Regions from separate parts of the Homo sapiens genome. Here regions 1, 2, 3, 4 and 6 are each linked to region 5. Evidence: fine-mapped expression QTL. A gene starts in region 5. Each other region holds a variant in brackets. All regions are shown on one strand. Distances are from middle to middle. Region 1 overlaps SORBS3 (sorbin and SH3 domain containing 3). Region 2 overlaps PEBP4 (phosphatidylethanolamine binding protein 4). Region 3 overlaps CCAR2 (cell cycle and apoptosis regulator 2). Region 4 overlaps BIN3 (bridging integrator 3). Region 5 holds the start of BIN3 (bridging integrator 3). Region 6 overlaps CCAR2 (cell cycle and apoptosis regulator 2).

Region 1 (4,101 bases), 99 kb after region 5:
AGAGAATGGGCCCAGAGGCTCTAACCCAAGTGTTGCCGCTTCCTGTGAATGCCCCAGGGTCCCTTCATGCTCTCACTAGCCCCTGATCCAGCTCCTCAGAGCAACTCAGCCTGTGCTCACCGTAGTCTTTCCCAGGCCTGCCTCCTGCCCTCTGGGCCCTAAGCACTGAACCCTCGCCTCCTCTGAGCACCTGGTGCCTTCCTGTCCATTCCACCAGTTCCACACTTCAATTATACATGCACCGACCTCAGGGCTAGAAACCCAATGAGGAGACCAAGGCCACAAGGCCACATAGCTGCCAGGAGGGATTGGGAACATCACAGACCAGCGCCTCCTCCCTGCCCCAAATCACCATAAGCTCTTCGAGGACAAGGGCTACCTGGTAGAAGTTTCCCAAATCCACAGGTGGGGACTTGGGGGAGGGTGGAATATGGGGCATTGCCTGCCAGTGACCCCCCCCACGTCTGATCAAGAGCCCTCAGATGGTACTCACGGGGTCCAGTGTATCTGAGAGGTGTTAGGAGAGGAGGTCCCCAGGTCCAGGGGATGGCTGGGACCTCGAGAGTGGGACAGAGCTGGACCAGGGGTGCCAAGATTCTGGGAGTTGACAGGAAGAAAGGGATGTCAGAGGGAGGAAGACGATGGGTACATGTAAGCCTGAGGGAGGAGGCCCAAAATGGGCGTTCCCAGTCCACCTGCCAGCACGCCTTACAAACGGCTTCATCTTAGCCTCCAAACCCCCAGGGCACAGGGACACCTGCTGTGACTATTTCATTTCACAGGGGCCAGAAAACTGAGGCCCAAGTAAGGTCAGTGCCTGGGTTTCTGGACGCCAGCATGGATGAACCAAGAACACCCAGGGTCAGGAGCCTGGGCCGGCTTTGGGATTCCATCTAGAGCTCCCTCGGCTAGAGCTCGGTAGGTTGAGGTCCCCCAGGCCAGGGTGGGGCTGCCATACTAGCTTCTGCCCTGTCACCCCACTCCTATGTCCCAGGGCTGTCTGGGAAGGAGTCCCAAGTGTGGACAAGTCACGGGGGTGGGGGATGAGGGGTGAGGAGGAGGTCGACTCTCTGGTGGAGGCAGGCTACCTCACCTGGGTCTGGGGTCTAGGCTCCTGGGTGGGGAAGGAGAAGCCAGTGCGACGGGGGGAGGTCTGTCCCCCCAAGTCGATGGGGTCAGCTGGGCTGCGCAGGGCTGAGGGGGAGCTGGGGTGACGGGCTGAGCGGGCGGCAGCGGTCAGGCGGGGAGACGTGGGGAGCTGGGGGCCGTCGTCACAGAGCCGGAGCCGGGGTTCACGAGACACCTGCACGTAGCTGGCAGGGAATATGCCTTGGCGCCCCGTGCCCGTGATGCGTCCCTCGTACCAGTTCTCGTTCACCTTGCGGATCAGGCAGATGTGCTCTCCCTGAGGGGGGAAAAGTCAGTGTCTGTGGGGCCTTCCTGGTGCCATGGACCCACGGGTGCCTTATCTGGGCTGTCTCATTCAACCCTAACACCTTGGACACACGAGGGGTCGGAATCGCAGGGGGCCAGCAGTTTACCCGAGTCACACGGTAAGAGCAGGAGCCAGGAGCCAAGCCCAGGCTGCCCAGGCAAGGCTGAGGCTGAGACTGGGTCCTGCCTCTTGGAAGCTCAACGGGTGTGCATCCCCCTTCGGCGTTCATAGCAAGGTCCCTCCCCAGAGCTCCGATCACAGGTGAGCCCGTGGCTAATAATACAGATCCAAACCCAGCTCCACCAGGCCAAGCTGTGTGGCCTCAGGCAGCCTGCTCTGTCTCTCTGAGCCTTGTTTTCTCCTATGTTAAGTGAAAATAACCATACTGTCACTATGAGGTGTGAACGAGATCAACAGTCCACTCCTTAGACACACTGGACAGGTGCTACCACTACTGCCCTGCCTGGGTCCTGTTCCTGCCTCACGCTGGGGGACCTTGTCATGAGCGTGTCAAAAACACACTCCCCAGGACAGGCAGGGAGTCCTGAAGGCCACAGGCTGGCTGACATTAGGTAGAACCACCCCCTGGGAGGGTGGCCTCCAGCCCTTGCCTTCCCCTGTCCTCTCCTGCCCCCATCTGTCTCCATCCAGCCACCTTCTTCCCCCTCTGTCCCTGGGGCCAGCTCTTCTGGGA[G/A]GCATTCACTATGGGCCGTCTTTCGCTTATTTTGGGAGCATGATCACTGCTCCCAAAATCAACCAAAGGCAGACCACTTCCCTGCTTTCTAGAACAGCATTTTTCAAACTTGTTTCACCACAATCTACAGTTAAAAATGTTTTAATAACAGCCCAGAATACATATATATGTGCATACACAGAACTGCCTACGGTATGATAAAGTGCTTTCTGCTCGCAACGCATGCTAACATTTCTGTCTATACCTTTAAAAATGCTGAGTATGATCCCCTGCAACCTGCAGTTGAAAAAATATATATGTAACTCTAGAAGTTTATGATGATCTTTTAAAAATGGACCAAAATTACTTGGGAGGCTGGGGCAGGGACAGGGGATCGCTTGAGCCCAGGAGTTCAAGGTCAGCCCGGGCAACATAGTGAGATGCTGTCTCAAAAAAAAGCAAAAAAAAGCCACTACACTAAAGGAAGCATAATGAAAGAGACTGGGGAAAACTTTGAAATCCTGGGTGAAGCTAGGTACATCGGACTCTTTTTTAAAGAAGTGTTTTTAGGCCAGGCGCGGTGGCTCACGCCTGTAATCCCAACACTTTAGGAGGCTGAGGCGGGTGGATTATGAGGTCAAGAGACTGAGACCATCCTGGCCAACATCGTGAAACCCTGTCTCTACTAAAAATACAAAAATTAGCTGGGTGTTGTGGCGCGTGCCTGTAGTCCCAGCTACTCGGGAAGCTGAGGCAGGAGAATTGCTTGAACCCGGGAGGCGGAGGTTGCAGTGAGCCGAGATGGCACCACTGCGCTACAGCCTGGCGATAGAGTGAGACTCTGTCTCAAAAAAAAAAAACTGTTTTTAGTGCACATATTTACCTACATCTTCACCTGCCCCCACCCACCCCTCCGTCTCCGGCCTGGCCCACCTTGCGGAAGGACAGCTCCACCTCCAGGTCCCCCTTGAAGGTGTACTGGGCCACAGCCTCTCCATACTCCAGCACCTGGTAGGTCGGGGGCTTGATGGGCTTAGGGATCTCATCTGCGGGCAGCACCTGCATGAAGAAAGGTCATGAGAAAGATTTGGCCTGGGCATCAACATAGCACAGGCTGGGGGTTCCTGTGAGACAGCAAAGAGAAGGTGGGCCCGCCCCTAGGCAGAGAAAAGATATAAACACCAGACACAAGCCCTGGGGGCAGCCACGGGTGGGCACAGCCAAAGGGTGCTGGAGGATGGGGAGGAGTCTGGGAACGCTCCCTGGAAGAAGAATTTTCCATAGGGATATATGGAGTGGGCATTACTGAAGTGAAGAACTCCAAGAGAAAAGATGGAAGCCAGTCCAATTAGAGAGTTTAAGTTGGACCACAGAAGAAAATGAGGCGTTCCAAGCAGCAAGGGGAACTTGGGGAACTGTTCCAAAACTGAGCATTCACCCTTTTCTCACTGCTGAGAACCGGGTGTCCCTGGGTTCCAGCGTCTCGGTTCTTCCTCCCCATCTACCCCAGCCGGAGCCCAGAATCCTCACGTTCTCTTTGCTTCACTCTGCCCATAAAAATCAAGCAGCCAATAAACCATTTCACACAAAGATAGAAACGACTGGCGGAGTGAAATACTGTATATACTTTGTGAAATTTCAGGACCAAGTGGATCATCGTGTAAGCAAGGGAGGCCTAATGATACCTATCAAAACAAGAGCCTGAATTAAACAACAACCCAACCCATGGGTCAAAGAGGAAGTCACAGACGAGATGAGAAAACAGTCAAGAGTTGATGAAAAATCAAAATGTGTGAGATGCAGTTAAAGCAGCATTCTAGGGAAAAATGTTTCAAATCAATAGTCTAAACTTTCATCCTAAGAAACTTAGAAAAATAACAAATTAAACCAAAAGCAAGCAACAATAAGCAAATAAGAAGCAGAACTCAATGAAATCGAAAACAAAAACGAGAGAAAAACATGAATAAAATCCAAAGATCAAGTAAATTAATAA
Region 2 (4,101 bases), 120 kb before region 5:
ATCCCTTGAGCTCAGGAATTCCAGACCAGCCTGGGCAACATAGTGAGACCCTGTCTCTACAAAAAAAAAAAAGTTCTTAGCCAGGCGTGGTGGTGTGTGCCTGTAGTCCCAGCTACTCTAGAGGCTGAGGCAGGAGGATCACTTGAGTCTAGGAGTTCAAGGCTGCAGTGAGCCATGATCACACCACTGCAGTCCAGCCTGGGAGACAGATTGAGACCCTGTCTAAAAAAAAAAAAGAATCCAGTGCTTTTAAATGTTAGCCCCCTAGTGCACAGGCTTTGTCTGACTTGTTTATTGCTGTACACTCAGGGCCTAGGACAGTGTTTAATGAAGAGTAAGTGCTTATTAAATGTTTGTTGAATAAATTAAATATGATAACTTAAATATTGGCTTCTAGGAGTCTGCACTGAGTTACACATATATGTGATGAATATATCTACACTTCCGCGGCTGCCTTGTGAATATGCATTATGTGTTTGTACGTAAAATATGTAGAGGACCCTAAAATGAATGTGCATGCGTGTGCGCGCACACACAAGCACGCGCGAACGCACAGAGAGCTTGGGAAAATATCAAAAGGAGAAGCCCACAGCTTTCTCGGTAGTCGATCGCACCCTTGGAGAAGAGGATTCCAATAAAATAGAATTTGGATGGTGTCACAAATAAATTTGCCTTTCTAAAAGCTACCAAATTAAAATTTGAGAGAGGGTTGAGCATGAGGACAGGATGGCAATGAGCAGATATGAATTTGCTTTATTTGTACGGCTCAAAACTCCTCTCTCTACCATTTGCGGGTGAGGAAAGAAGACTGCAGGACCGGAGACAAGATGAGAAGCTCTGAGGCTGCTCCCTTCTCTGCTCCTCAGCCCGAGCTTCTCCAGGAGCCCACTAGATATGGCAGCCCCTTCCCCTTGCACCCCCAGAAGCCCGTGGAATCCAGTTCTTTCTGTGTGTGTCTGGGGTGGGGAGGTTGGTTGCCTGCGTGAAGAGGCAGCCCTTTAGGGCAATGGTGCAGCAACATTACCCAGCTTAGATCTCTATTCATCTGGTCTTCTGGCCTATCAAAGGGTAGTGGCTGACCACCCCCACCTCCCCTCAGAAATAAAGTAACTGCTGTCATATTGTTCCAGCATCTTAAGCCCTGGGGGGTCATCGTGTGTCCCAGTTACTCACAGAGCCCAGTGCCGCCTGCTAAAGACTGTATTTAAGGGTAATATAAACAGTTTGATCTTTAAAGTACCCTGGATGCATAATATCTATACATAGTTCTTGAATTTTTCTTCTAAAAACAATTAGCCAAAAAGCCCTTTTTATATGATATTTGCAACTACACTGACAGTAACAGCAATTAAACCCCGTCTGTTTGCTGAGAAAGGAGCCAACTCTTCATTTCTCCAGAAGCCTGTAAAATGTACAAATTCGGAACTAGAACACTGAGCCTTCAAAGGTAGCCACAAGACCCTTCAAGGTCAGGCCCCAGCCCAGCTTTTATTTCCCCCTCCACCCCACGTGATCCCATCATCCCAACCAGCCCCAGCAAGGCCGAGATATCCCTGGTGTTTTCTGCCCCTGCTAAGCTGTTGCCATGCTTAGGGGCCTTGTCTGGGATGTCTTCCTCTTCCGTGCCCCTCTTCCCCCACCGGTATGCCAAGGCACGGTTCAAATCCCACCGATGTAAGCAGGCTTCCTGGTCTACCTCAGCCATCAGGGCCCTCGTCATCCCTTGAAT[C/T]CCTGTATCTACCCCCTCAGGAGGTGCTTCCACATGGCCTGAGGATAATTGGTTCTAAGGGTCTCTGCCCCCACTCTGGACTGTGACCTCCTTGAGGGCAAAACTGCACCTAGCTCTCTGCCTGCACATGTGATGAATAAATAAATGAGTGAATGAAGGAAGGAAGGAAGGAAAGAATCATCAAACAGCCCATGCAATGGTTGAAGGATGACAAAAGGAAGTTAACAGGCATATGAAATAAAGACCACAGCTCTGGTGCTGAGACTTAGAGAGGGTTGATGGGGAGGAGCAGGGAGATCTGCTAGCAGGCTATTCAGTGGCCCAGGAGAGGGATGACGGAGCGGCCATGGGGGTCAGCGGGCCATGGGGCCAGAGAAGAGGCATTGGACTCCCCATCCTGGAAGGCCAGGCCCAACACCCTCTCTCTTGCATCAGAAAGAGTGCTACAGAATTACCAAATCAACATGGACTACAGGGCATCTGCCCGTTGCACCTGTCCCCGAAGATGTTGAACTCGGTAAAAATGAAGTGCTGTCTTTGCATTGGAGGGTTAGCAGAGTGGGAGGCGGAGAGGAATTTTTTCTGGAGGAAGGAGAATCATGTCTGTCACAAAAGTGTTTGACAAGGTGAGCATCCATTTCTTAAGAAGACAGTGAAGCCTAGCTCTGGGCCACCCAGAGACTGATTTCCCTTTGGGGCACTGGATCAGCTCGCAAAGGACCCCCATGCTGCTGCAGACGTTGCCCCAGAGCTCTGCAGTGGGCCCAGGTACTTTCCTGTGGCCTAGAGCAGCTTTGAGCTGCATAGGTCTTCAGAGGCTGGGAGGAAGGGAGGAGCCCACAGCCCCACCTCAGGGGGCTTAGGAATAGAGTCACCTCTTAAGTATCAGCGGGGTCTCTCTGAGGGGTGGCAAACGTACCAGCATAAACTGAAGGTTGGACGACCCTAGTTTCAGGCTGGCACCCACCCCCATCTCTGACTAGTCACTGTCTAGACTTCCCTAGGAGCTTGAATTTCTTCGTCTCAAAAAAAGCGAGGTTGGGCCCGACGATCTCTAGGGGTGATTTCCGCTTCTAAAATTCTATAGTTTCAGAATTTCTCCGCTTCCTTGACTCACTGACAGCCTACTCTCCATCCTAATGACTTAAAAATTCCTGTGAACACACTTAGTGTATAACTGTCTTTCTGTTTCATTTTTTAGTTACAATATTCTAGATAATACTCTTCTTGCTTGCCAAGAAAAGAAAAAAAATGACATTAATTAAAGATTTGGTCTGTGTCCTAATCAAAAATTTTGAAAATGAATGTATCATACTGTACATTCTGCAATGTAGCCTGCTTTCTTACTTAGCAATATATCATTAACATTTTCCCATGTCAACACATAATCTTCTAAACCATGATTTTTAGTGCAGAAGTAGTTTACCATATGGATGTACTATAATTTACTCAGCCAATCCTCTACTATTGGACATTAGGTTGTATCTGCTTTTTTTTTATATTATCACCAACGCTACAATGAACAAAGTTGTGAATACACAACTCTTCATTCACCTCTGTGGTGACTTTCTGAGAATAAATTCTCAGAGGTCAAAGGTTTTGCATATTCAAAGGCTTTTTGGTACATGTTAACTAAAATGCCATCCAGAATTTAGAATTTCTATCAATGTAGAATCCTTGTATCAATTTAGAATTCATAGCATATGAATAACCATCAGGACAGTCATATTTTAGAGTTGAAAAGAGACCTAGCAAGGCTGTGGTCCAGCCTCTCCAGTTTACAGATGAGGAAACCGAGGCCCAGGATGGGACACGTGTAGGTATTTGTCCTGGGTACTCCTCGCAGTATGGGTGAGACTCTGAACACCGCCAGGACCCTGCTTGTGCCCCAGCCTGCCAACCTCGGTCCCCACTGCCATAACTCAGGGCTTCTAGGGCCTTCCCTCCCTGCGTCACCTCTCATGGGCCCTCATAGCCACACGGCTTCCGCCTAAGAGCAGGCTGCACTTGCCATTTCTCCCTCTTCTCTTCTCATTCGTCTTTCCCTGCTCCTTCTTTGTCCCCCTGGCAGCCACTTTCTGATGGAAACATGCAGTTCTTGTCCCAGGGGTTTCTCGGTGATAGTTAGAAGCCCTCTCCCATTTTGAAACCCCTTCATCTTTCAGCTACCTGGATCCCACTGCCACCTGCCCTTTTGGCCAGTCCTTCTCAACATCCTTCCCAGGTTCCCTCCCTCTACCTGGCTTCCTGCCTGCTGCTCCTGGTTCTCCCAGCATCCCCCTTCCCTTCATATGTTCCCAGGATGAGCCCGTGCATCCCTGAAGCCTCCAGCCACACCCACTTTTCCTCTGCCAGAGCTCCAAGCCTGTGGG
Region 3 (4,000 bases), 54 kb after region 5:
ATTTAATTTCATTAAGTGGGATTCAGAGCATGCCAGGGCATCGCCAGACACCTGGGCTTTTTTCCTCAGGAGTTGATCTTGGTCCCAGAAGAAATTACATTCATTTGATTGATAGTATTTAAACAAGCAGCAGCTGGCCATGGTGGCTCACACCTGTAATCCCAGCACTCCTGAGGTCAGGAGTTCAAGACCAGCCAGGCCAACATGGTGAAACCCCATCTCTACAAAAATTAGCTGGGCATGGTGGTAGGTGCCTGTAATCCCACCTACTGGAGAGAGGCTGAGGCAGGAGAATCGTTTGAACCTGGGAGGCAGAGGTTGCAGTGAGCCGAGGTTGCGCCACTGCACTTCAGCCTGGGTGACAGAGCAAGACTCCATCTCCCCAAAAAAAAAAAAAAAAAAAAAAAAAAAAAAGCAGACTAGTATTTTAGAAAAGGTTTACAAATCTTTTTTTTTCTTTTTTGAGACAGAGAGTCTTACTCTCTCGCCCAGGCTGGACTGCAGTGGCGCGACCTCGGCTCACTGCAACCTCCGCCTCCCGGGTTCAAGCGATTCTCCTGCCTCAGCCTCCCGAGTAGCTGAGAAAACAGGCATGCACCACCACACCCGGCTAATTTTTGTATTTTTAGTAGAGACGGCGTTTCACTATATTGGCCAGGCTGGTCTCAAACTCCTGACCTCATGATCTGCCCACCTCGGTCTCCCAAAGTGCTGGGATTACAGGGGTGAGCTACAGCGCCCGGCCTACAAAATTTTCTAGTTAACCATCAGGCAATCAAAGCACCCCACTCTGCCAAGCGTTCTCAGTGACAAGGGTTTCTGTGCTGTCAGGCTGCTCAGCCATGCTCCCTGCACTCTGCGCCACCTTCCCTTGCACTAGGTGTGCTACTTACTAGCTGTGCGGCCTCAGTCCATGCCGAGCAAGGGTGCAGGGAATGAGCTAAGGCACAGGAAGCGCTCGGAACAGAGCCCGGGGTAAAGGTGCGCGGTCACGGTAAGCACTATGACAGCCCGAGGTGGCAGGGTACTCACCAGCGGGGCCTCTGACTCTGTAGCCGGGCCCTCATTCTGTGCCTCATCCTTGGGCTCCTTGACCACCTCCTCTTTGATGGCTTCTTCCTCCTTGGTGGCTTCTTCCTTGGCCGCCTCCTCCTTCTCAGGTTCAGGTGGGGACACGACCTTTTCAGGAAGGCTCAGTAGCATCTTATAAACTCTATAGCCAAAATCCCTCTGGAGCATCTCCAGAAACAGCTCGGCCAGCACCATCACCTGATGGGGAGGTGGGAGGGTCCATGAGCATCAGGAAGAAAGACTGCTTCAGGCCCACAAATCCCAGCCCACAGCCTCCCCAAGACTCTTGACACCTGCCTCAAAAGAGATCCTTTCCTTTGGCCTCCGATCCTCCACAATCCCATGGAGGGACAGGTTTACACAGCCAGGGCGTGCGATGACAGCAGGTTCTAGGGGGGGTGGAGGGGCCTCTGGGAGATCAGTGTCCGTTTCCTGCTGTGTGGTGGCCTCTGGAGTTTCTGCGTTCCGTCTAGAAGTGTCTGCTGCTTGCTCCAAGGC[A/G]TCAGGTGCCTGTTCAGTAGGCTCCGTTTCCTGTGACAACAGCTGAAATGAGACCCTCTGGGTCCCGGGATTAGGCCACCTATATCCCCCGCTGCTGGCTAAGGCACAGCCTTACCCCTTGTGCCTCCTGGGTTGGGGGAGCTGCCTCTGCAGCTTTCTGCTGGCACAGGGCCTCCCACTCCTCCAAAGTAGGCATGATGGTCCAGACATCCGGCAGGTACACCACCACTGTCTGAAGCCGCCGGGGGGGTCCCGGCTGCAGGTACTGAAACTCGGCAAAGCGCCACCTGCACATGGCAAAAGGAGGTACTAACTTCTTTAGTGACAACTCCACGCAGACACCACGTTCACAGGCAAGGGCTTCAGTTTCCAGTCAGCACTCAATGAGCACACACTGCGAACCAAGCTTTGAAGACACAACAGGAAAGCTACAGACCAAGTCCTCAAGAAATGATCAGTCAGTGGGGAGGCCGCAACCACACAAGCACCCTACAAGGTGCAAGGACAACTCCAGGGAGTCTCAAGTGCAGCCTGGTGGCTCAGCCAGATTTTGGCATACACCCCACCCTACCCTGAGGCACCAGAGGGGGAAGGAACGGGACTAGGGGGCAGAGAGCTAACCAGCAGAAAGGGGCAGGGACCGGGCCTTCCCAACAAAACCTCCCCAACCTGGTGCGTTGGTGCAGCTGAGGCTCAGGAAGCCCACTCACCACTTGGTACAGCCGCTCAAATCAATGCCAGTCTGGGCCTGCGCACAGCGGATGGCGGTACGCACCAGCACCTGCGGGTCAGCCTGGGGGTCGAGGCCATCCAGGGAAGGAGACCATTCACCCCCAACCAGCACTGCCTCCTCTTCTTTCCTGCCCAGCAAAAACTGCAAGAAGAGATCAGGGATACAAAACAAAAAACTACATTACCTGGGTCTCCCACTGCAGGGCAAGGCTGCCACCCATCAGGATGAAGGCAGCCGGAAGTGGGGAAGTCCACCACACAGTGAGGTCTCTATCTGCAAACATGAACCAGCCACCTCGCTCTCTCTGACTAGTCGTAACAGCTCTGAGCTGCACCTTCCTCCTGGGTGAAATGAGGGGTGTTCGGCTCTGAGATGCCTCGTTTTATGCATTCAGGAACAGGAGCCGAACACTCAAAACATGACAGGTTGTGCACATTACCCGTGAATGCATCTCCTCCTGCTCTCCAGCTCTTACCTTAATCTGCTTCAGAGGATGCTCTGGCGTCTCCCTTGGCTCAGCCATGTCATCCACAAAGAGCATGCAACAACGATACAATTCCTCCAACCCCGGGGAAGAGAGCAGCAGTACCTGTGCAGGAGGAGACACTCAGAGCTGCCTTCAGCCTCCAGAAATCAGATAAGTGAGAGACGCCTGTCAGCTTACCTTCGAACTATAAGCGGGGTCACTGTCTGCAGTGATGGGCTCAGCACCAGCGTCTGGAGCTGCCTCCTTTTCAGAAGAGACCTGGATCCGGCTTGGATGATGGAGGGAAAAGGGCTGGCTCAGGGGGAAGGCTGATAGCCAACTCAGATGCACGGACAGAAAATCTGAGGGGACCAGGAGGCTGCGGTAACGGCGCTGGAGTTCTAGGAAGTCACAGATGGGGCTACAGGAAGACAGCAAGGGAATCCAGACTGAGCAAAGACTAAAACATTCGAAATGAAACCATCAAAGATTTGAAAAAATGGGCGAATTTTTTTTCAGTCTGAGAACTTTTGAAGTAAGGCACCTCTCAAGGAAGCTAGATCAGATCTGACCACTTAATTTACAAACTCTAGATGGCAAAAGTCAAACTGGGAAAGGGAAAAAAGAAAACACTTATAACACATGACAGAGAAATGGGTCATTGCCTTAATATAAAGGAACTCACAAATCAGTAACAAAAAGTTCAAAAGCCTAAAACGGAAAATTGACATCAATAGGTTCTTAAGAGAAATACATAAGAATTAGAGGCCAGGAAAATATGCTCAATCTCACTTACAATTAAAGAAATGCAAACCACATTATCATGTGTCACCAACTAGACAGACAAAGATGAAAAAGTCGGCTAACAGTGTTGGCAACGGCACGGGGAAATAAGGTCTCCACACCCCACTGGTTAGAGCAGAAGGGGCACAGCCTCTTCAGGAGAACTGGCAATAGCTATGGAAGCTTAAAGCAAAGCCTTTGAGCCAGCTGCTCCATTTCTAGAAATTGATCGCAACAAACACACAGGTGTAGGTAGAAGGATGTTCATTCCAAGAAAATTTAGGATAGAGTGCAAATGGAGAACTGGGTAAATAAATCATGTTCATCCATTCAATGAATACTGTGTAGTTGCTAAAAAAAAAAAAAAAAAAAAAGAACTAGATCTAATAAATGTTCATACGAAATAAAATCTAAAGTACATTCAGTGAAAAGGCAAACCACCAAACAGT
Region 4 (4,101 bases), 34 kb after region 5:
GCTGAGGGCAGCTCAGGTCACCAGGCTGCTGGAACTGTTCCCTGGCAATGGCCATGTGAGAGTCATTCACTCATAGCCTTTGGGTGTAGTGGCACTTCAGTCAGCGGGAAAAGTCCCCGTGGAGAAGATCCCTTTCTCCTCCTCCTTGGCAGGCCCTCCAGAGCACCTGGGCTTCGCTCAGGTAGGGGGAAGGAAGGGGACCCCAAGCAGCCCGTCCCCTGCCTTGCAGGCTGGAAGAGCAGACCCGGAGGCTGCAGAAAGACATGAAGAAGAGCACCGACGCAGACCTGGGTAGGTGACTTTCCACCCGCACCACTCGCTTGAGCAGGTGGGGCAGAGGTGGGCACCCTCCTCTCTCAGCCCCCCAAGGGCTCTGAAGTTGCTGCGCTCAGAGGACGTGTACCCAGTGTCCTGAGAAGCAGCCTCAGGGCAGTCACTCCTCACCAGTCACATCCCACTTTGCACAGAGCTCGCACTGCCCCACTCTGGATGTGGGTGCTGGGGCAAGGCTCTCCTGGGACTCCAGTCAGGACAGTACAGCAGCTGGTGGAAGCTTCTGGTAGCAGATGCCTCCATTGCCTCAGAATCCTGGCCACCGGCTCAGGCTGTCCAGAGGGAAAGGGAAGCACATTCCTTCCCGCAGAAACGAGACTCCGTGGCCTGCTGGGACAGGCGCTCCAGTGGCAACAAGAATGGAAGCTGTCATGTGTTTAAACAGGAGGTTGGGTTAAAGTGTAAGGCCAGAAATACCCCAGATAATTCTATGATGACAAAGGGCACCGGGAGGTCCTTGGGAAGTGGGGGCCAGCAGGTGCTGGGAAACAGCCAGGGCCCTTGGGGAGGTTTCTTGGCTGGAGAGCTCTTGTTTGAAACAAGGAGGAACCAGGCCTGGGAGCCTAGAGACACAAGCAGGTCGGGAATAAGGGAGCATCCAGAGCCCTTGCTGCAGGCCATGTCCCAGGAAGGAGGCGACGAGCAGCCGGGAGAGATGGAGACCATTCCTTGAGGTTCTTTCTCCAAGGCCTTGACTTTCCCACCCCGGAGCAGCAAGCACTTGACCAAAGGTTGATCAATAGCTTCAGCACTCCCTGCGCAGCTCTGGACAGCTGACTTAGCTCTACCTCAGTTCCGTCACCCGAGAAGCACAGGTAACGCCAATCCGAGTGGCACAGGCTGTTGCTGAAGATGAAGTTGGATGAGCAACGTAAAGCACTGAGAACAGGGCCTGGCACGGGTCAGCTCTCGGGGTGTCCGCTCCTGTCATCACCGTCGTCATGGTCGGCAGCAAGCCTCCCTGACTGGGTGGACTCCTGCAGCTCCTTCCCTGGGTCCAGTGGGGAAGCCGTGTCTATATACCACACTGGGACGAGGACCTGAAAGAGACTTGGGTATGGCCAGGACTGCCCACTTCCTCTCACTCAGCAGATGCTGACCGAGAACCCACGTGCACCAGGCACTCTCAGCACTAGAGACTCAACAGCAAGACAAGATGGGAGCTTACGTTCTAGGAGGAAGACCTGCAAGAGGTCCACAAGCGGATCGGTATATAATGACACGTCGTGGCGTGCAAGGTCAATAAAAATAAGGAGGTGGAGAGTGACAGGGTCAAGGGAGGCCTTCGTGGGGACGTGATCCCTGGGCAGAGTCCTGAAGGAATGAATAACCCACACAGGTAGAGCCAAGGGAAGAGGGCCTGAAACACAGTGGACAGCAAGCGCGGAGGCCCTAAGGTGGTGCACGCTGACCAGAGATGCAGGAGAGGCAGCAGGAGGGTGGAGAAGCCATCTTCAGTCCCCTCGGCCACTCCAGCTGCTGAATAATGCCATGTTATGGCTGTGAAGAAATTTCACCTCCCTGAGCTTTTCTGACCTTGAGATTGGCAGGGCACATGACACACCCATTTTATAAATGGGCATGTCCATTTGATAAAGGAGGAAGAGTTCAGCTCCTCTTCTCCAAGTCCAGGGCCTTGTCTCCACAGCGAAGCCTCCCCATGCCCCACTCATTCCTTTGCCCACCCCCGTGCCCGCCACCAAACTAGAAGGTGACCGAAACAGCCCCCACTCCGGAACCGTTGCCCATCCACTCTTTGCTTGGCTGTCTGTGAGCCTAGTGCAAATGGGGCGGCCTCACTGTCTCCTGACACCATTCAAAGGGCCACAGGGCAGTGGGCACCTACGGGTGGGACTTGAGGACCAGTGTGCTCCTACTTGGTACTGCAGTTACGAGGAAAACCCTTGAAATGTCCCAATAGAGGCAGTGATTTGAATTTGTTCCCATTTTATGCCAGCTCCTAAGCCTCAGCCAGTTACTGATGTGTAAACACACCTTTCCTACAAAGCACTGATCACAAAAGGAAAGCGTTCCTTCCCTGGGAGCCGCCGTCACCACCACCATGCCC[G/A]GGTGAGCGCTGACTGCCTGTGCAGGGACTGTGGCCGTCTTGGTCTGTGCCATGAATTTTCATGCCAGTGCTAATTCCTGGGCCGTGGGCTGGTCTGAACATGCACCTTGCTCCTGGCCTCTAGCGTTGCCAAACTATGTGTGTCACAAGCCAAGGACTGGATTTGGGAGTTTGTCTGCAGTTGTTTGTTTTGTAGTTATTTCAGGTCTGAGTTACTTGGGTCGCATTTTTCTTGATCGGTCCCCACTGCCTTTCCAGTTCGGGAGCTGCTGTGAGCCATTGCTTCCTTTCCTTCCTGCTTCTGCAGACAGCTGCATTGTCAGAGCATAAACGAAGCCAGGGTGTGCTGTGTTCACAGTGGCTTGCTACGGAACCAAGGAGGGCATCAGGGGTCCGTGACGCACCGTCCATGGCTGTGGAAAGCTTAGTTTCCCAGCAGAGAAACCAGAGTTGAATGGGTAACTGCAGAAGCCTAACACTACTGTCCTCAGTCAGGAATGGATGTGGGCAGAGACAGTGCCTCTGAAGAGCGGTGGTGGTGGTCATGGGGCCAAGGCGAGCCTGACAGCCACATCAGTCTCATGTACGGGGCATCAGTGTTGTAGGCGGGCTTGCTGTGCCGTGGGCCGCTGGGCCCCACCTCCAGCCTCCAACTAACTCATGAGCTGGGCGAGACCTGAAAATGTGTGTCCCTGGAGTTCCCAGGTGATGCTGAGGCCCACACTGTGAGCTCCACTGATCTGGACAGTTGAGGGGAATGGAGGGATGCTTTTCCTGAGCGTGGAATCTCCTGCGCTCCCCCAGCAAGGTGGAAAATCCCCAGTTATTCTAAAAAAGATGACCTTTCTTTCAGAAACTCATACTACTTTCAGAGTGCTCTGGTGAATCTTTGAATCTTACATTCCAGAGGCCGCATCAGGACTCCAGAGACCCGGGTGGGGTCCAAGACCCTCACTTTCTCTAAGGTTCAAAGATCACCAGCCTCCTGGTGTGGGCCAGGCTGACTGTGCCCCTCTCCCAGTCCCTGCAGGGAACAATGAGGGGTATGGGCTGGGGCAGGGACCACAGGTCCAGAGGGGCATGGAGACCTGCTGTTTATTTTTGTTGAGGGGGAACAGAGTCACACTGTGTCATCCAGGCTGGTCTCGAACTCCTGGGCTCAAGGGATCCTCCTGCTTCAGCTTCCCAAAGCACAGGGATTACAGGCATGAGCCACTACGCCCAGCCAAGACCATGGTGTTCTTGGTGTCATCTACCCCAGCTCTGCTCTGCTCACATGAAGCGGGGGCATCACTGGGCGGGGATTCCAGACCCAGTTCTGCCCAGGGCCGGCCACTGAGCCCACTCAGTTCCTTGACTTCCTGACAATGCAAGAGCTTTAGGAAAGAAAGGGGAAAATGCAGCTGGGCTGGGCGCAGTGGCTCACACCTGTAATCCCAGCACTTTGGCAGGCAAAGGCAGGTAGATCACCTGAGGTCAGGAGTTCGAGACCAGCCTGGCCAACATGGTGAAACCCCGTCTCTACTAAAAATACAAAAATTAGGTGGGTGTGATGGCAGGCACCTGTAATCCCAGCTACTTGAGAGGCTGAGGCAGGAGAATCACTTGAAGCCAGGAGGCGGAGGATGCAGTGAGCCGAGATGATGCCATTGCACTCCATCCAGCCTGGGTGACAAGAGCGAAACTCCGTCTGAAAAAAA
Region 5 (4,101 bases):
GGAAATAGAGCCGCAGACTCCTCCAGACTTGTAGTCCAGAACTTATCCATTCTAGTCCTCTAGGATGTGTCTGCTGCCCTCCAGCCCTGAAACAGACTTCTACTAGGATATAGCAGTTACCTAGGCTAAAACGTTTGGAAATATTTATCCCTGTGGGGCATAACTGAGGGAGGCAGAACATGGGGAAGGGAGGAAGCAGGTGGGAAAACTATTCACAGGTGCTAACTGCCAGGAGGCTCCTAAACCCACAACAGCCCTTCCATCCGTCACACTCTCTGCAAAGCAGCAAGGACTCTCTCTTTCCCTTTACCCACACTCTCTGCCCAGGCTACCCTTTGGTGACTTCTGCTCTTCCTCTTTACTCTTCAAGGCTGCTCTTGTGCTCATTTTGGCCTGTTTCCTGAGGAACAACATGGTAATGAAGCTGATCTGCATGATGTGCTTGGGGATCCAACCTCCATTGGAAACGTCAATTGAGTCAAACTATGGACTCTCAAGAATGGAAACAGAAAACACAAATGAGAGACTGCATCCTGTGGCCCACCCTCCTACCTCTCCTGCTCAAGCCCTCTACTCCACCCTAGGAGGTCAAAACAAATCATACACTACTTCTGCTCTAGGTCATTGGTCATATTTTTCCCGCTAGGTCATTGATTAGCAACCCCCTAAGCAGTCCCTGAAACAATCCCGGTCCATCTGAGGAAGGAGAATTCCTAGAGAGAAGGTCACTGGGGGCCCAGCAGCACCTGCACGGGCCTCACTGCCTTCTTGTCTCTCTTCCAAGGCAGGGAGGTACTTAGCGGTGAGGAAACCAAGTCGGCCCAGAATCCCAGGCAACTTGTGAGCCACTAAGGCCCTGAATTCTGACTTTGGGAGACCCGAGGCAAGTCAGCTGCTTGCTTGGTCCTGTCTGTGTCTTAGCCATGGTAAGTTCCCTCTGCCTGGAGCCTCGTCACCCCTCATCTCAGATTCACCTGGCTAGCCCCGATTCTGCCTTCAGGGCTTGGCTTACACACTGGCTCCTCCTGGAAGCCTTCCCCAAAACCCCATGTGCTACTTCAGGGTCCCCTTCTAGGCTGCCACCACACCTCATTCTATCCTATCCTATAGCATGATTATAATTGCCTGCTTGTCTCTCCCTCCAGGAAAGTAGCTCTGGGAAGGAACAAGAGCAGGGCAGATACTTCTCTGAGATAGCTGTATCCTAAGGTTGGCTCGGTACCTGACACTAATATTAGTGCAACTAGTATTAGTTAAATGAAGGAATAGAACGAATGGGGCAATTTACATCATTTGAGTCCTGTAGAGGAGACCAAAGGGAAGGGCTGAAAGGCAGGGAACAACTCATACTCTGCGTCTTATTGTGTTGAATAACTCTAGGAAACATTCCAACCTGAAAAGCACCTATCTATTGATATTCAGAGCCCTGTGCCATCTTGGAAGGGAAACGTCCGTTTGTTTGTAACAGGTAATGCATGTGTGGTGTACAAACTGTAAAAGATAGGAAAGAGCATTCAGAGAATGTAAGTTTTCCACTTTCTCCATCCCAAATGGCTTCTTCTCCCACAGACAATTGCTGCCACTGTCTCTGGATTAGAAACCACTTGACAGAGGGGACAGCCCGGCTAAGGGCCCTGCATGGTCAGGTGAAGAGATCTTTAGGAGTCAGTGTTGAAGGCAGAAAACGCCCCCAGAGGTTCCCCTCATCCCCCGTTGCAGCCTGTGTGTCTAAGCGCTTGGCCAGAGCCAGAGAGTCGCCGGCAAGGGAAACTCCGCGGCGAGCACGCAGCAGCAGAAGGGTTAACGCGCCGGGCTCCGCCTCCCAACCGCCTCTTCCGGGCAGAGAGGCGGGCTTACGTCACTTCCTGGAGACTGGTTGAATCCGGAAGTGACCCTAGAGAAACGAGTTGTGGCTGAGGACCCCGGCGGCAGACGCAGGTTCGGGACCATGAGCTGGTGAGTGAGGCCCAGGCGGCGGGAGCTGCTGGACCCGCGGACCCGCGAGGCCCCTGGCCCTGTGTCAGTGCCGCGTCCCGGCTCCCTCCGGTCCCGCGCGACCCCTCCGCCCCAGAGCAAGGCCCGACAGCCCCTGCCCTAGGGTCGTTCCCTCGGTGCTTTCCGGAGTCGCAGTCTCTCAGCAGGACTCCCGGGGAGAGTGGCGGATGATCCTCTTAGCCTGGGACTCCGCGTCTGACCCGTTTTGCCGGACTCGCGTCCTCCTAGCTCCTTGAAGTGAGGGACTTCCTTGTTCCCTCCTTTTTTAAACACCCATTGAGGTGGAGTCAGTGTCGTCTTTCTCTCCTGTGGGCATCTCTGCCCCGCGCCAGTCCCTCCAGAGCTGTGGCCCTCGCTGTGGCAGCCTGGACCCAGTTCACTAATCAAAACCCACTCCCTTCTGGGTAACTATCCTCTTTGCACGACTTAGCAGGCTTCAAAAGACAAGGAAAACTTGCTTCTCTTTTTAAAGGGGCCAGAATTACACTCCGCACACACCCTTCCACTGTGGGATTGGACTGGTTTTAATCATTCCAGAGCTATTACTCACTGCCTGCCCTCTAAATAGGCATGGTTAAGTTTAAACTTATGGGAACTATCATGCCATGAGAAAAGAAGCCAGGGAGTCTTAGAGTAATAGAGTCACAATTCCAGTTGCTGCAGTATGATGTGATACTTGGGTCATAGTAGACACTTCATAATGGTGTATTTATTTTGTAAGACTCAGTTTGCCCAAAAGGCAATCCCCATTTGTTGCTCTCGATTATTTATGTTCACAGGAGAGAATTGTGACTTGCCTGCCTTCCTGGGGCTTTCTTAGAGGTTAGAGAATACTCATATGCAGCACCTTACCTTACCGTCAGGCCCAAGGACCTATATAGCCACAACCCTGGACCTCAGGGGATTCAACTATAGTGTGTGAATAAATTGAGCCCCAGAGATGTACAAGATTAATCAGCCCATGGACATAGGGAACATATTTGCCACTCTGTCCTCAGAGGCTAGTGTGTTTGTTTATGCAAAGCGCATGATAACCAGTTATGAATGAATTAAGATAACAGAATGTCCTTCAGGAAGGCTTTTGAAGCTTAATTTTGGCCATCAGTGGAGAACGCAAGCAGCTGATATCAGTCAGTGTCAGGGATACTTCTCTAAAGTAAAATGCGAACCATCTGTCCCCTCCCCCACCTGTTTCTTAGACCAAGATTGATGGACAAATGTCAGACAATCACCGCAAGCACGGGAGGAAAGCCTGAAGCAATGTCCTAATAAGCCCCGGCAGGAGCTTCTGCTTTTCCCTCCACCATTTGCTCCAGGAGGCCAATAAGGGGCTGGAGCCTTAAAAAGCTACCTTCCCTGTCTTGTTATAACCTAGTTAGTGGTGGGCAAAGCGGCAATTCTTCAGTTCCCTTTCCCAGAGGAATTACGTCCTTTCAGTGTCATTCTGGGCCCCCCAGTCTTGCAATATAGATATCCTTTTGGCTGCTGCGTCTTGAATCTTTGGAGTGTTCTTACCTAATTTTTCAAAGTGAAAATGAGGCAGTACAGATGCTTTATATTGCCTAGATTGGCCTTTACTGAACCAATCTTTCCTTCACAAGTTGGGAGAAGAGCACAGCAGAAACTAATAAAGGTAAATGATTCTCTGGGTGATCCGAAGCAGGTTGTTTCCACCTGTCTCACAGAAAGTTTCCCTTCTGAAAAAATAGTAGCCCATTCCTTAAAGGTTATCCTGTCAGGTTGGAGAGAATTGAGATTGACAACTGTCTAACAAGAGCTGAGATTTTCATCTAGTAGCTTTAATTTACCAGTACATGCACATCTTGGTATCTCCTTGGACTGAGAGTCACAGCCAGAAGGGTGGCTTTGTCCCTCAAAGCTGAGATTCCTTTCTCTTCCCCCTTAAAGGGCTTCTACGTCATCTCTTGCGTGGACCCTGACCCTGTCTCTCAAAGACGGGAACAGCACCGGCGCCTGGGCACACAATCACACTCAGTTCCTAGCTCAATGGCTGGCAAGGAGACCGGGGCTGGGTCCTTCTGATTCACTCCCTGAGTGGTTTTCCTGCCCCCAGAATGAATCCATCCATTCATGTGAGACTGGAAT
Region 6 (4,083 bases), 48 kb after region 5:
GTGTCCAGGTTGGAGCAGATGGGAGGCCAGGGATGCCCTTTAACCAGGCAGCATTGCTGGGGGCTGTTGACTGCCTCTTGGGCCCCAGCCTCCCCCTCGCCCGCCCGGCTGCCATTAGTCATGGAGAAGTGAGTATTCCCAGTGACTCAGCGCACAGTGGCTTGGGCAGGGAGTGGGGGCAGGGTGGGCCGCCGCCAGCCCAGAGGTGACAGCAGTGTGTTGAGACCAGCTCACTTTAGCACCCCCTCGGCCGGCGGAAATCTCGCCTCAGGAGTATCAGCCGTGGGTCCCCGCCCCACCTGGCATTTCCCACAAGGTCCCCTTAGTGTCTAGAGCTCCTCCTCATGTCTAGAGTGAAACGTGGAAGCTTTCAGGAAACTGCATGCTTTCATTGGGTCATGAGGTAGAAACTGAGGCAGAAGTGGCCCCTATTGTCTGTGGAAAAGCCCCTGGTCCTCAGCCATCTGGGAGAATTGACGGGCTTCCCCATTCCTCCACCTGCCCCACCCTCAACCCTGTGTCCCCTCCCACACCATTTCTGGTGCCTCCCTAGAGGGACCCTGGCAGTGAACCTGGCCTCTGAGCTGTCCCCCTGGCCACGCAGCTTGGGCCATGAGCAAGGGTGGGATGCAAGTTGGGAGGGAACAGAAGGCTAGACGGGCATCCCCTTTCTTGCCTGTGCCTCTAAAGCTGGCTTAGGGCTTTGGGAGCCATCAGCCTACCATGCTGTCTTTCTGCCATGGACAAAAGCCTTGGGTTCTCCCCTAGCTTACAAAAAGCAGTAAAACTCCAGTCATGGTGCCCATCATTCCACAGTCGCCCTAGGAGGCCCATGCCTTCCTGCACCTGCTGCTGGGGGAACCAGGAGCCCGAAGCAGGGGCGCCTCCACCTCCAGCCACTGAGGCCCTGTTGCTCCCCGGCTCCTTTTGGTTCAGTCTCAGCTAGAGCCCTTCCGTGCCCTGCATATCCCCAAAGGCACGCTGCTGCACAGCTCCAGATGGGTAAGGGCAGGGGGTAGCAGAGAAGTGTGAGCCTCTGGCCCCCTGAAGCACACGGTTCCCTGGAGCCAGCACGTGCCAACCCCTGTCGCCTCCCCCAGGTTGTGTACTACTCGGAAATGCACAAGATCTTTGGAGACCTGTCCCATCAGCTTGACCAGCCAGGCCACTCCGATGAGCAGCGGGAGCGGGAGAACGAGGCCAAACTCAGTGAGCTCCGGGCCCTCTCCATTGTGGCCGATGACTGAATCCCCGTCACTCTTGGAGGACTCCTGTGACGTGGTCAGCCTCATTCATCCTTGCCCTTCTCAGGGCTAGCTGCTCCTCTCACAGGCTGGGGACAGAGGTGGCCCTGGTTCACTTGCCGGCCCTTTGCAATGAATGACTCTTCCTGAGCCTGGCACCAGGAGCCCTAGGCAGGCCGCCGTCTCCCCACTCACAGCCCCAGCAGGTAAGCAGTGTAGACAAACCCTTGGGGCTTTTTTATTTGGAGAACCGTCCAGCATGCATCCTGGCCCACGGCCTGAGCAAGCTGCAGCCCTTCTGAGGCCATGGGCTTCGTTGGCTAAGTTGGGGGTCTTAGCCTTGCATGCGTTGTGGGCATCAAATCTACCTCCAAAAGACCCATCCTGGGGAGCCCTCTGGCCCCTCGTTGCCTTTTCACTTCAAAACCTCTTTTTTCTGGGAGAGGCCCTGAACCCTGTGCGGGAGAGCTGGTCCTCCAGCCCTGGCAGGCCCTCAGCCAGCTTCCCAGCAAGACAAAGGGCACCCTTGTGGCTTTGGGACCTAAGTGGTTGGGGTTCCCGAGGTCACTGAGGACTGGTACCTCGGGAACGCAAGCTGTCAGTGGAACTGTCCCACAAGAATTCACAGGTCTCAAAGCAGGAACAGTGGGTTTGTGTCTCACCTGAGTATCTGGAATTTTATTTTTTCAAGTAAAATTTTCAATGAAACGTCCACATAGTATTGTGCTGTAACTTAGGCGAGCAGAGGAAACCCCTTCCTGGGCCTGCTGCCCTCCACGGAGCAGCAGCACCCTCCAGCAGGCAGCCCAGCATGCCAGGGGTGTGTGCGCACCTCCCCGGCCCTGGCCCACCTTCTGGAGCGAACTGCACCGTGGTCCAGCAGAGGCGCTGGGTGGGAGGGCACGCGGGCAAGCCTAGGAGAGTAGGAAGAGCTGTGGAGGACACACTCTCAGTTTGTTTTTGACTTTGGTTTATTTAAAAAACAAGCCAAAAAAAAAAAAAAAAAACCCCAACTTTATATACAAAGTCAAACTGAAACCACGGATTATGGAAAGAGGCAAGAATTATGGGTAACAGGGGAGAAGGCTGGGCCAGAGCCAATACCACATTCTGAACACAGGAGCCACGGG[A/G]AAGAGGTGCTGGTTTCTTCTGGCAAGACCGGGGTGACTGGAACGCAGTGTTCTACTGGCAAACCCAGCCCAACACTGAGCTCTTTCTAGCATGGACTCCATTCCCGTGATGGCCAAGGGAGACCCTTCCCCCAGAAGCCTGTGTCCGGAACCTAGCAGAGCCTGTGCCATCCGGAGGAGGGGGCTGCTTAGCCCCAGCCAGGCTCCATGTCTTGCTCTTCAGTTCCGTTCACTGACATCAGACCTTGTCCCACACTCGAAAAGCCTTTTTCTCCCCTGTCTTATTCTAAACTGGAAGAGGACAGGAGAAAGTCAGCACAAGACTAAAAGGGCCCCAGGAGAAATACCAAGGTTGAGGGCAAAATGACATTCTAGGGGTGCAAAAGATGTTGTATTTAGTTGTTAAGTGGAACCGGGGTTCCTCACACATCCATCCCACATAGCACAGCCCCCAGCCTGATGGCCTGCCGTCCCCTAGAGGCTGAGCATGGGGTCAGCCACCCCTGCCCTGGCTCCCAGGTCTCGCTCTCGCTGCTTTCTGGTACCGCAAGGGCTCCAACTTTGCCGGGCGCCACCGCTGCCCTCACAGGATGGCAGTTCCGTGCGAGGCCGTCAGTTGCTAGGTGCCGGCTCCTCCTTCTCCACCCAGCTGTCAGCCTGTTTGAAACAGATGATGTACCCAGAATCGGGCCTGGCAAGGTGATCTGAGGACTGCGGACTGCGGACTGCCTCCTGCTGGGAAGCTCCCACTGCACGCTGCTGACTGCTCAATTCCCAGAGAACCTGCAACCAGGGGCACACTGCCTGGCAAGCGATGGAAAGACGAAGCCGGTGCCTGCTGGCCCTCTGGTCACTCCCGACACGGGCAAGCGCCCTTCTGGGGACTTTTGGAGCTCAGGGAAAGGAGCTGTGCTGCCTCCTGGTCCACCCCCACCTTACCTTTTCCACCACCCGCTGGATCTCCAGCTGCAGGGGGGTCAGACGCCTGCGGAGCTCCTGCAGCAGCCGCTGGAGCTGGCTCTTCTGTCGCTCCGCCGTCCGGGCGGTCTCCTCGGCCTCCGCCAGCCGGACTCGCAGCTCCTGCATCTCTGCCGCCAGCGTCTTATTGGTTACTTCAGTGGCTGAGAAACGGTTATGGCTCTCCTCTGCAAGGTGGAGAAGGAAACGGGGACGGCTGCTCCATCAAGGCCCAGAGCACAGGGCAGGGCCTGAGCCTAAGCAGCAGGTTCCCTACTGGTCTGCATGTGACCCCATGGTGGCTGCAGCCCCAGGCCCTCACCCAGCTTCAGCTCCAGTGTGTGGATCTTGTTCTCTAGGTAGAGCCGGCCGCTGTCCTGCTGCTCCGCGCGCTGCAGCAGGCTCCCCACGTTAATCAGGCTGCCATTGTGGGACACCAAGGCTTTGTGTTCTGTGGGGGCAGCACCTGGCTTCGTGCTTTTCCCAGGAGGGGGCAGCAGGTCCAGGTTTCCTAGAGAGAACCGTGAAAAAGAATTCAGGATGGAGTCTCCAGAGAGGGCAGCCTGCCCTGCCCGTGCCCCAGGAAGGCTGCAGGGCCCCAGAACATACCGAAGAGCACCTCCTCGGGAAGGCCACCATCCAGGCCCTCCTGGCGGCTGTACTGAAGGCTCCGGTACTGGCAGATGTTCTGGGTCACCACCCTGCTGACCAGCTGCTTGGCCTGCAGAAAACACATCTGCTGATCAGAAGGC

What was found.
Region 1: its variant is fine-mapped to the expression of BIN3 in whole blood (INTERVAL, PIP 0.98).
Region 2: its variant is fine-mapped to the expression of BIN3 in putamen (GTEx, PIP 0.95).
Region 3: its variant is fine-mapped to the expression of BIN3 in whole blood (TOPMed, PIP above 0.99).
Region 4: its variant is fine-mapped to the expression of BIN3 in whole blood (INTERVAL, PIP above 0.99). The same link has a PIP of 0.9 or more in blood mononuclear cells.
Region 6: its variant is fine-mapped to the expression of BIN3 in whole blood (TOPMed, PIP above 0.99). The same link has a PIP of 0.9 or more in adrenal gland, aorta, atrial appendage, caudate, cerebral cortex and esophagus mucosa.

What each region holds. Positions count from the first base shown.
Region 1 is chr8:22,568,214-22,572,314 of GRCh38, reverse strand. SORBS3 (sorbin and SH3 domain containing 3) reads right to left here. Exons shown (of 21, transcript NM_005775.5): 17 at 3,042-3,167; 18 at 1,094-1,405; 19 at 494-597. Among named protein-coding and RNA genes, the nearest start is that of PDLIM2, 10 kb to the left of the region's middle. RefSeq lists an enhancer at 1-435. The variant G/A (reference allele first, on the strand shown) is at 2,130.
Region 2 is chr8:22,787,999-22,792,099 of GRCh38, reverse strand. The region is part of intron 4 of PEBP4 (phosphatidylethanolamine binding protein 4); the gene reads left to right. Among named protein-coding and RNA genes, the nearest start is that of PEBP4-AS1, 88 kb to the left of the region's middle. The variant C/T (reference allele first, on the strand shown) is at 1,730.
Region 3 is chr8:22,613,281-22,617,280 of GRCh38, reverse strand. It overlaps CCAR2 (cell cycle and apoptosis regulator 2), which reads right to left. Exons shown (of 21, transcript NM_001393997.1): 9 at 2,967-3,189; 10 at 2,778-2,891; 11 at 2,280-2,443; 12 at 1,685-1,856; 13 at 1,369-1,599; 14 at 1,033-1,269. Among named protein-coding and RNA genes, the nearest start is that of CCAR2, 11 kb to the right of the region's middle. The variant A/G (reference allele first, on the strand shown) is at 1,570.
Region 4 is chr8:22,632,715-22,636,815 of GRCh38, reverse strand. BIN3 (bridging integrator 3) reads left to right here. Exons shown (of 9, transcript NM_018688.6): 4 at 230-291. Among named protein-coding and RNA genes, the nearest start is that of BIN3-IT1, 7.4 kb to the left of the region's middle. The variant G/A (reference allele first, on the strand shown) is at 2,402.
Region 5 is chr8:22,666,899-22,670,999 of GRCh38, reverse strand. It overlaps BIN3 (bridging integrator 3), which reads left to right and starts at 1,879. Exons shown (of 9, transcript NM_018688.6): 1 at 1,879-1,956. The coding sequence starts at 1,949. RefSeq lists enhancers at 1,710-1,769, 1,527-2,156 and a silencer at 2,020-2,179.
Region 6 is chr8:22,618,586-22,622,668 of GRCh38, reverse strand. CCAR2 (cell cycle and apoptosis regulator 2) reads right to left here. Exons shown (of 21, transcript NM_001393997.1): 18 at 3,941-4,052; 19 at 3,654-3,842; 20 at 3,314-3,519; 21 at 2,198-3,031. The coding sequence ends at 2,987. BIN3 (bridging integrator 3) reads left to right here. Exons shown (of 9, transcript NM_018688.6): 9 at 1,101-2,251. The coding sequence ends at 1,247. Among named protein-coding and RNA genes, the nearest start is that of CCAR2, 16 kb to the right of the region's middle. The variant A/G (reference allele first, on the strand shown) is at 2,375.